Linked DNA regions of Homo sapiens. The protein of the gene in region 3 interacts with the protein of the main gene of each other region in a biochemical or structural test. Each region holds a gene or a part of one and is shown on either strand. Other genes may lie near its edges. The genes, in order: RPS10, MEOX2 and RNF10.

What was found.
Region 1: of the proteins of RNF10 (region 3) and RPS10, one has a biochemical effect on the other in vitro, tested with the Homo sapiens proteins (one study listed by BioGRID).
Region 2: the proteins of RNF10 (region 3) and MEOX2 form a complex in vitro, tested with the Homo sapiens proteins (one study listed by BioGRID).

What each region holds. Positions count from the first base shown.
Region 1 is NC_000006.12:34,416,954-34,420,011, forward strand, and holds the end of RPS10 (small ribosomal subunit protein eS10), read right to left. Parts: intron 1,472-3,058; coding exon 1,416-1,471; intron 595-1,415; coding exon 553-594; 3' UTR 501-552; downstream 1-500. Other genes in the region: RPS10-NUDT3 protein, read right to left, coding at 1,416-1,471. UniProt on the Homo sapiens protein: Component of the 40S ribosomal subunit. The ribosome is a large ribonucleoprotein complex responsible for the synthesis of proteins in the cell.
Region 2 is NC_000007.14:15,676,647-15,680,384, forward strand, and holds part of MEOX2 (homeobox protein MOX-2), read right to left. Parts: exon of another isoform or gene 2,268-3,738; intron 1,002-2,267; exon of another isoform or gene 817-1,001; intron 1-816. UniProt on the Homo sapiens protein: Mesodermal transcription factor that plays a key role in somitogenesis and somitogenesis and limb muscle differentiation. Required during limb development for normal appendicular muscle formation and for the normal regulation of myogenic genes.
Region 3 is NC_000012.12:120,572,287-120,575,390, reverse strand, and holds part of RNF10 (E3 ubiquitin-protein ligase RNF10), read right to left. Parts: intron 1-3,104. UniProt on the Homo sapiens protein: E3 ubiquitin-protein ligase that catalyzes monoubiquitination of 40S ribosomal proteins RPS2/us5 and RPS3/us3 in response to ribosome stalling.

The DNA.
Region 1 (3,058 bases), on a different chromosome or scaffold from region 3:
TTTGAACAGTGGTTTTTGTGCATTGTTTTCTCCCTTGATTCTTGTCAACAAACGCTGAGCCTTGAAGACTTAGATTAGTAACGTTGGCCTAAACACCATTCCTGTGCTTCTTCTCCATAAATTGAAGGATTCCAAGTGCACCATTTCCTTGGTCGTTACCTTTCATCCTCCCTCCCCAGTACTTCTTATAGTTCCTGACAGCAGGCACAAATCACGACTCCAGGCCAACCAGCAATTTTCCCACCATGCTGAGCTGAGGCAGCATGGCTGGTCTAAAGAAGGGACCCAGTTTTCCAACTGCAGCACCATATGGGACACCACTCTGCAGGGAGGCACTGCCTAGAGAAAGCAGGGCACACGCCAAAGCCAAGTACAGCAGCAGCCGGTGTCACCCAGGACAATGACAACTCCCCAAACCAAGCCTGTACTGCCCCATTTACATTCTGACACTTAAACTGTTCCTGTTCAGGCTGCACAATGCAAACAAAATGGACAAAAGATTAAGGTTTTTTGGCTGTAAGTTTATTCAATGCAAAAGAATCCTCTCCAATTTTACTGAGGTGGCTGACCACGTCCACGACCAAATCCGCCTCTCTGTAAGAGAAAGCACATCACATCAGCATGAGCGGCACTCTGGTTTGATCTTTGGAGGTTTTGCTAACTTTCAGGCCTCATTATAACTCCAGAGGCCCCCAAATGTAAACAGCTGGGAGAGAGCTGAGTACAGGCTATAAATCCCAGCACTGCCCCTTACTGGATGTGGGGCCATATCTAACATCTAGGCCCATTTCTTCATTGGTAAAGTGGGAGTATGGCCACCCACCCAGAGTGTGTTCATACATACTCCTATGAAAGCATCCAGCACCAGGATTGGACCGTTTCTACTGTACATGCTTCCTTTTTACAAATGACATTATCTGAGAGCAATCGTGTGCTATGAGGACCTGCCATAGGACAAAAATGATATGCCAGTACTATGCCTGGATTAACTAATCTCACAACTACCTTAGTAGCTGTAATTATCACCTTATTTTATAGATGGAGAAACTGAGGCAGAGGGGAACCTACCTAACATTACATCAACTGAAAAAAGATGGAGGATTTGATTTCATACCATCTTGGTTCTTAAGCCCACCCACCTTCCAGTGTTTAGTTCAATGTCAAGCATTAATGAAACAGAAAATACTAGTAGGCCACATGTACTGATTTCTGAGACTCATTTCAGTAATTTATGTATTTACAAAAGTTTGCATGCTACAACTCAATGTAAAATTTGGAATTTGGAAAAAAGTGGGAGGAGGGAACTGGTTGACAGGACCCACCCATACTATATGACATCCCCACAACTTGCAGAGCAACCAGACTGAGGCCAGAACAAGTGATGGCTCATGGAAAACAAATAGGAAGATACTCACAAACTGGAATTCGGTTGCTGACCCAGCCCCAGCCTCGGCTTTCTTGTCGGCACCAGCTAGAAAGTGAAACATCGATTTAGAATCATCATATGATCTAATCTACTATAGAACAAGGGAAGACAACTCACTGACTCCAATCTTGCAGGAAAAGCCAAGTACCACTCCGTTAAATATAAGCAAATTACACCAGTGGTGGGGAATACCTTCTGAGCCACCTTTGTCTCTCCTGGGGCACCCTTCTCAGCCTTCCTTATGTCACCCTTCAATACTCACAGCCCAAACTATAAATCCTCCCAAAGGATTCCTACTTCCTATCACACTGACTGACTTACCCACTTCACAGCAGCATCTAGATAACAAAGGGAGTGTAATTATGGAAGAACTAACATGTAAAGGGAAGGGCCCACAAAAGCCTTAATTACCACCATGGGAGAAAAGCAGACAAGATGCTGCCCGGTCCTATATCCCAGTCACAGTTCAAATGGAGACGTGTGCAAAATTCACCAGTTTTCTTTTACTTATTTGAGACAGGGTCTTACTCTGTCACCCAGGATGGAGTGCAGTGGTACGATCTCAGCTCACTACAACCTCTGCCTCATGGGCTCAAGCGATCCTCCCACCTCAGGTGGGACTACAGGCAGCTAATTTTTATATTTTTTGTTCGTTTGAGACTGAATTTCGCTCTTGTTGCCCAGGCTAGAGTGCAATGGCGCGATCTCGGCTCACTGCAACCTCCGCCTCCCAGGTTCAAGCGATTCTCCTGCCTCAGCCTCCCGAGTAGCTGGGATTACAGGCATGCGCCACCATGCATGGCTAATTTTTTTGTATTTTTAGTAGAGATGGGGTTTCTTCATGTTGGTTTCTCCAGGCTGGTCTCAAACTCCCAACCTCAAGTGATCCGCCCACCTCGGCCTCCTGAAGTGTTGGGATTACAGGCATGAGCCACCGCACCCAGCCCTAATTTTTATATTTTTTGTAGAGATGGGGTTCTGCCATGTTGCCCGGGCTGGTCTAGAACTCCTGAGCTCAAGTGATCTGCCTGCCTCAGCCTCCCTAAGTGCTGGAATTACGGGTGTGAGCCACTGCACCCAGCCAATTACAAAGACTTAAGAAAAAAAGAATGTAAAATATTTCACTACTCTTTATACTGATTACATGTTAAATTAACACGTTTAGATATTTTTTAAACCGATTTATTTGTATTTATTTACTTATTTTTTTTTTTTGAGACGAAGTCTCACTCTTGTCCCTGAGGCTGGAGTGCAATGATGCAATCTCAGCTCACTGCAACCTTCACCTCCTGGGTTCAAGCGATTCTCCTGCCTCATGCTCCGAGTAGCTGGGACTACATGTGCATACCACCACGCTTGGCTAATTTTTTGTATTTTAAGTAGAGACGGGGTTTCACCATGTTGTCCAGGCTGGTCTCAAACTCCTGACCTCAGGTGATCTGCCCGCCTCGGCCTCCCAAAGTGCTGGGATTACAGGAGTGGGCCACCGCGCCCGGCCCTGATTTATTTGAGTTGGTGCGGGGGGCAGGGTCTCACTCTGTTGCCCAGGCTGGAATGTAGCAACAAGATCATAGCTCACTGTATCTCAAACTCCTGGGCTCAAAACAATCCTCTTGCCTTGGCCTTCCAAGT
Region 2 (3,738 bases), on a different chromosome or scaffold from region 3:
GATCACTTGAGGTAGGTAGTTCGAGACCAGCCTGGCCAACATGGTGAAACCGCGTCTCTACTAAAAATATAAAAATTAGCGGGCGCCTGTAGTCCCAGCTACTCAGGAGGCTGAGGCAGGAGAATCACTTGAACCCGGACAGCAGAGGTTGCAGTGAGTCAAGATTGCGCCACTGCACTCCAGCCTGGGCAACAGAACAAAACTCGGTCTCAAAAAAAAAAAAAGAGTCCTCATTTTATTCTTTATTTTGCTCAATATGCACTCTTCCTGAAAACAGCTTTTCAATGGAGAAGTAGCAGGAGACCCAAGAGAAGAGGAAGTTAGGAGAGGTCCAAGTAAAAGAGGCTGTGGAATGGAAATCTTAAGGGTGGGAAAGGCAACTTGAGCCTCTTACATAACTTGGCTAGAATTCACCTTACATTTCAGGGAAATTTCATGCCGTTTACAATTCTAAGGACAATGATTATTTTAAATCTTTAGTAATTACTTAGGCAAGTTACATTTCCTATAGCAGTATTTGTAATAAAATGCAAACAGGTAGCATAAAATAGATTATTTTCAGATGGTGCATATGCATTACATAATTGTACATTCATTGATAGATGATAAAAATAATAACTGACACTTTACTAAGCCAGACATTGTTCTAATTGCTTTGTGTATATTAACTCAATTTCCTTTTCAGAAACGATGGTAGAGAAAAGTTAAATTTGTGGCCAAGAGGTGACAATAGTAAGAGACACAGCGGGGGTTTAGCCCTAACTATTGTGTTCTCCCAGATATGCTTGCCTCATTTCTTCTTCGGTTGACTCTTAGGGTTGCATCCACCTAACCCTCCGGGGTTCTGGCTTCGGATAGTGTTTGATCAATGGAAGCAACAAAAGAAGATTGGAGGACATGAAGACAGGTTACTGGATGATATTCGACATGAGCTGCAATCCTCCATCTGAGGTCCCAACTTTTCCAGAAGGCTTCTGTCCTGTTGCGCTCATTGGATTCTGGTAAGAGGTCCCTGCATTTACCCTCTCAGGTTAGGGGTGCTAATATATTCCAACTGTGGACAGACCCTGGGGGATTCATCATTTCCTGTGGTTTCCCTACATTCTACTCACCATCAAATTGCCATCATCAAACTCTCTTCAATTATCCCTTTGAGTGTGACATCTATTTCCTTGTCTAATATGATAATTAAGAAATAGGATAAATCTTTTATGATTTATCAACTAATGGCTAAATATGCAAAAGTGTTGCCACTTACTTATACTTTCCTAAACATCTGGGTATTCTAGAAAATAAATTATACAGCTCTACTTCCAGGAGCAAAGAATAGTTCTGGAGGAAAAATTATTTATAATTCCCTGAATTTTGAGTGTGGACATTCACAAGACTGTAATCTTAGAAACATGGGTGGCAGCAAGCCTCCAAATAGGGATGCCTAAACTCTGACTTTCCTGTCATTTTAATATGTCTCAATCATTTTTACATCTACATTCTGTCTAGTTTAATGCATCCAGATCTGTTTATACTTCAAATAAGAAAAAGAAATTCCCACGTAAGCATAGCCTATAGGTGAGAAAATTTTAATTGTTAAAGGCACTACACATACTAAGACCTCATTTTATCTTTGAATAATATTAAATAAGACATCACTTGATTCCAACCTATGCAGTGAGTGCTAAAGCATTATTTATATGGTTCTTTAAATGTGAAAGTTATTTGCTAAATTGCTGTTGTTCTACAAAACCAAGCTAGTCCCCATTACGTTTCGGATAACACATATTTATTTTTCTGAATAGTTTCCTGTTTGTGTTACCTACCAACATAAATCAATGATTTGCAAAATTTGCTTTGCATTCATTGTTAATTTGATAAGAGGCATGCCCATTTAATCTTTTCAACTAATAAGAATACACCTCAGTTTAGTTTGCTAGTTTTTTGGGTGGCTAAGAATAACCATCCAAATGTTTACTGTGCAGTCCAGACAGTGGACAAGCTACCTCAACAGACTCTGAATATATTTCACTACTGCATTTGCAAATAACTATCACTTTGCAAAAATAAGTTTTCATTTGGGTGTCATTTCTGGCAAAAATTTAAGGCTATATTTTCAAAGAGTAAAATTCTAGGCCTTTAAAATTCTACTGGCATCTGCCAACCTAAGCTGGACCCTCCTCTAGGTTTTGCGGAGCCTGACAGATGATTTCACCTTAGTCATTTTCTTGCCCACAGTCACGTAAGATAACTGCGAATTTGTTTTTTCCTTGTAGCATTATGGGATTCTCTTGAAGTGTGTGAAGAATAATGAGCTAAATAAAGAGGAAAAACAAAAGAAAACAAAAACTGCAGGGACTTTTATAACTATCATTGATTGCCAGCTTAAGCCTGCTGGACTCTTCACAAAACTATATATGCTTCAAGCTTAATATTTAATTTTGTAATTGGAACATTTATAATCATATTATGCATTTAATAAGGATGCTCTAATTCAGATTTACTATTATCAGGAAATTAAATTTGGAGTTACAGTAATGCATGCATATATATGTGTGGGTGTGAGTGTGCATATACCTATATATGTATATACATATATAAAGTAAACGCCTTCTTTTAACGTGTGTTTTAAGTATAGCTTCCATGTCCTAGTTAATTCAGCACCCTCCCTTTTATCCTTTCCTTGCCATTGTCCTCTCTACTAGACTACAATAAAAACAAAAAACTATGAAAGTAAGCAGCTTATAATCATAATTTTAATCAATGTAGCCTATGCAAGCTTTAAGAAACATACGTCTAACATCTTAGAAAGAAAGCTTATGAACACAAACAGCAGAATACTTAAATACATTTGAAACATTCACATTGAATTGATTCTACAAAATTTTGAAGAGCAACAGCTTTTGAATTTAGAGCTATAATCAGTACCCTAAAGTTTTTACCACTGAGTTACTACCTAGTAAAAATATGTTATATTTGCAATAAAAGTACACATTGTAAGGACATAAGAATTGTCATCAAGGTACACAAACATTTTAGAATTATTAAACATTTAAATAAATGGAAATTTTAAAAATAAAATAACAATATTATCATACAAGTTAATGATCCAGTTTATTAATTTCTAATTCTATTGATAAAACAAGGGATTATTTTTGAAAGGGTTTTTCTATCTTTCATACAAACCCTTTCCAAAAATGTATAGATACAGTACGGATTCTACCTGATCATTCTTGTGCATATGGTGATGTAAGAAACCAAAAAAATGTAAATTATTTTCATAACACTGTGAAAACCAATATTTAAAAATACAGTGCACAATTAGTAGTGAGTAACATATATAAATTTAGAAATATTATATTTCTGTACACAAAGTAACATTATAAATGAAAGCTTCAGGAATAATGAGCTACTTATTATTCCGGAAATTATATATCAAAAATTTCAAATATAGAGGAAAATTAAAAACCCACTCATGACCCATGAAAATTAATAACCCATTCGATCATACACTTACCATGTAACTTTCTGTTAATTTGGTAATAAATAATGTCAAGAGATTTTAAATGAAAATACTTATTCTGAAACATAAAAACAACATCTGAGATGAGCACAAATGGATCAATAGATACATTATTGATTATTTTGTATCATAAAATACTATCTAGTACAACATTCTTTAAAAAATTCAATATTTTTATAATGTAAGTAAAACGGGAAGAACTGTTAGAGAAATGGGCATCAGAT
Region 3 (3,104 bases):
AAAGAACACTGCACAGAAGGCACAAGAGATTCTTACTGAGACCCTCAAATTGGGAATTCCGACTTTCTGGTTAAGTTTTTCTGCCCTTCCTGGGACCCCTAAAAACATCGAGCTGTCGGAGGAAGCAGTGAGTAGTACCCTCCAGTTTTTGTTTTTTAGACAGTTTAGCTCTTGTTGCCCAGGCTGGCGTGCAATGGCACAATATTGGCTCACTGTGACCTGTGCCTCCCAGGTTCAAGCAATTCTGTCTCAGCCTCCCAAGTAGCTGGGATTACAGGCACCCGCCTGGCTAATTTTTGGATTTTTTTTTTTTTAGTAGAGACGGGGTTTCACCATGTTGGCCAGGCTGGTCCTGAACTCTTGACCTCAGTTAATCCCTCACCTTGGCCTCCCAAAGTGCTGGGATTATAGGCGTGAGCCACTGTGCCCGGCCTAGTACCCTCCAGTTTTTTTTGTTTTGTTCGAGATGGAGTTTCGCTCTTGTTGCCCAGGCTGGAGTGCAATGGCGCAAATCTTGGCTTACCGCAACCTCTGCCTCCCAGCTTCAAGTGATTCTCCTGCCTCATCCTCCTGAGTAGCTGGGATTATAGGCATGCACCACCACGCCCGGCTAATTTTTGTATTTTTAGTAAAGACGGGGTTTCTCCATGTTGGTCAGGCTGGTCTCGAACTCCTGACCTCAGGTGATCTGCCCGCCTTGGCCTCCCAAAGTGCTGGGATTACAGGCATGAGACACCGTGCCCAGCCAAGTACCCTCCAGTTTTAAACCACATGGCTACTAAACTTCAGTTACCTAAAGCCATGAAAACTAACTAAACTCTCTCCTGACACCGCTTCAACAGCCCCTCACTACCTTTTAGTCTGCTTTTCCAATAGCTCCTTCATCATTAACTTTCAGATCCAACCACAGGCCAGTAAAATTCCTGCAAGGACAATAAAATCAGAACAATCCTCATGCCCCTGAGGAATTTTCATTCCACTTGGCCAAGGCCAGCTTTGTAACTGCTGAAGGCCACTATGAGCCCCAACTGCAAATATGCCACTTAAAAGGCAGAGAACATTTTATTCCTGGAAAAATATCAAGAGACAAACCCCATGGGGTTCAAGCAGGGATGCCTTGTCCTTAAATCATATATTCCAAAGTGAGGAATGCCTATTACTCAAGATGAGTTTGTGTTGGCAGATGCCGATTTCATTAAATAACCTTTCTTCATTATGTTCCACTTTGGTGAACTTCTCCCTTTGTCTCTAGGAGTTTGGGTCTCCTACGGTTTAGACATTTGACCCTCCCAAGCCTCATGTTAAAATCTGATCCCCAATGCTGGAAGTGGGGACCTAATGGGAGATGTATGGGTCATGGGGGTGGACCCCTCATGAACAGATTAATGCCCTCCCTGGGGGATGGGAGACCTATTCTCGCATTCATTCCTGAAAGAGCTGATGAGTGATGTCTGCCACTGGATCCCAGTGGGAATGGCAGTACATGTGTGTTTGACAACCCTGGGCACTCCAGCCTCTGCCCTTACCACAGAAGGGATCTGAAGTAGCTGGTGTGTCCAGTTTCACAAAGGCTGCTTCAATAGCTTGGCTGAAGGCTATTTTGAAACTGGGCACAGGAACACGGTTGTTTAAAACGGCCTGGCACCTCCTCCCCTCCTTGCTTCCTCTTTAGCCATGTGATCTCTTCACAAGCAGGGACCCCTTCACTTCGTGTACCATGAGTGGAAGCAGCCTGAGGCACTCACCAGATGCCCAGTCCTCCAGCCAGCAGAGTCATGAGCCAAATAAACTTTTTTTTTTTTTTTGATAAATGACTCGGCGTCGGGTAATCTTTTATACCCACACAAATGGACTGAGACAGTATCCAAATAGTTTGACATGTGAATTGTTTTACTCTTAAAAGGTAATCAAAATGTCACCTATGTCTTATTCTTACCAAAATGTTTAAATGTAACCTGAATCCATTCATGAGAAATCAAACAAGTCCAAACTGTAGGATATTCTATAAAACAACTGGCCATGGAAGGGAAAAAAAAGGGGATATGGGCAAAGGAACGGTTATAGATCAAAGGAGACTAAAGAGACTTGACAACTAAATGCAGGGAGTAACAGGATTCTGCCCTGAGTTGAAAATGAAGGACGCTGAGACAAATGTGGAGATATAAATATGCACCATATTAGATATTACTGTGGCAGTGGAATTTCTCTAATGTGATCACTGTGGTTCTATAGGCGAATATCCCACTTTCTTTGGCATGTATCTCCTAAGTACTTAGCGGTAAAGTATCATTCAGGATATCTGCAACTTCTTTTCAACACAGAAAAAAGAGAAAGCAAATATATAACAGCAAAATAGTAACAATTAGTGAATCTAGGTCAAAAGTTTAAGTGTTCATAATACTATTCTTTCAACTCTGTATTTCAAAATAAAGTTCAAAGGAAAAAAGCAATAGCAATAAAGCCTAGTTTAAAAAAAAAAAAAAAAAAAAAGGCCAGGCGCAGTGGTTCATGTCTGTAATCCCAGCACTTTGGGAGGCTGAGGCAGGTGGATCGCCTGAGGTCAAGAGTTCTAGACCAGCCTGGCCAACATGGTAAAACCCTGTCTCTACTAAAAATACAAAAATTAGCCGGGCATGGTGGTAGGCGCCTGTAACCCAACCCCAGCTACCCGGGAGGCTGAGGCAGGAGAATTGCTTGAACCCGGGAGGCGGTGGTTGCAGTGAGCCGAGATCACGCCATTGCACTCCAGCCTTGGGGACAGGAGCAAGACTTCAACTCAAAACAAAACAAAACAAAACAAAACAAGTATTTGGCATAACTCCTGGGAGCCACTTGTTAATCATCTCTAAGTCCAGCAGTTAATTTTCAGGATCCCCCTCTCTTCTCACCTCACCTCCACAATTATTTCATGTTCCTTGACTTCGGAACCCTCCTTACCAAAGCTCAATTCTTGCTTATTTCTCAGTACAAACTGCTGTAATTACATAAGAAAGATCCGTATCAACTGCTCTAAAGAACTGTCAATGGCCGGGCATGGTGGCTCATGCCTGTAATCCCAGCTCTTTGGGAGGCTGAGGCAGGCGGATCACGAGGTCAGGAGATTG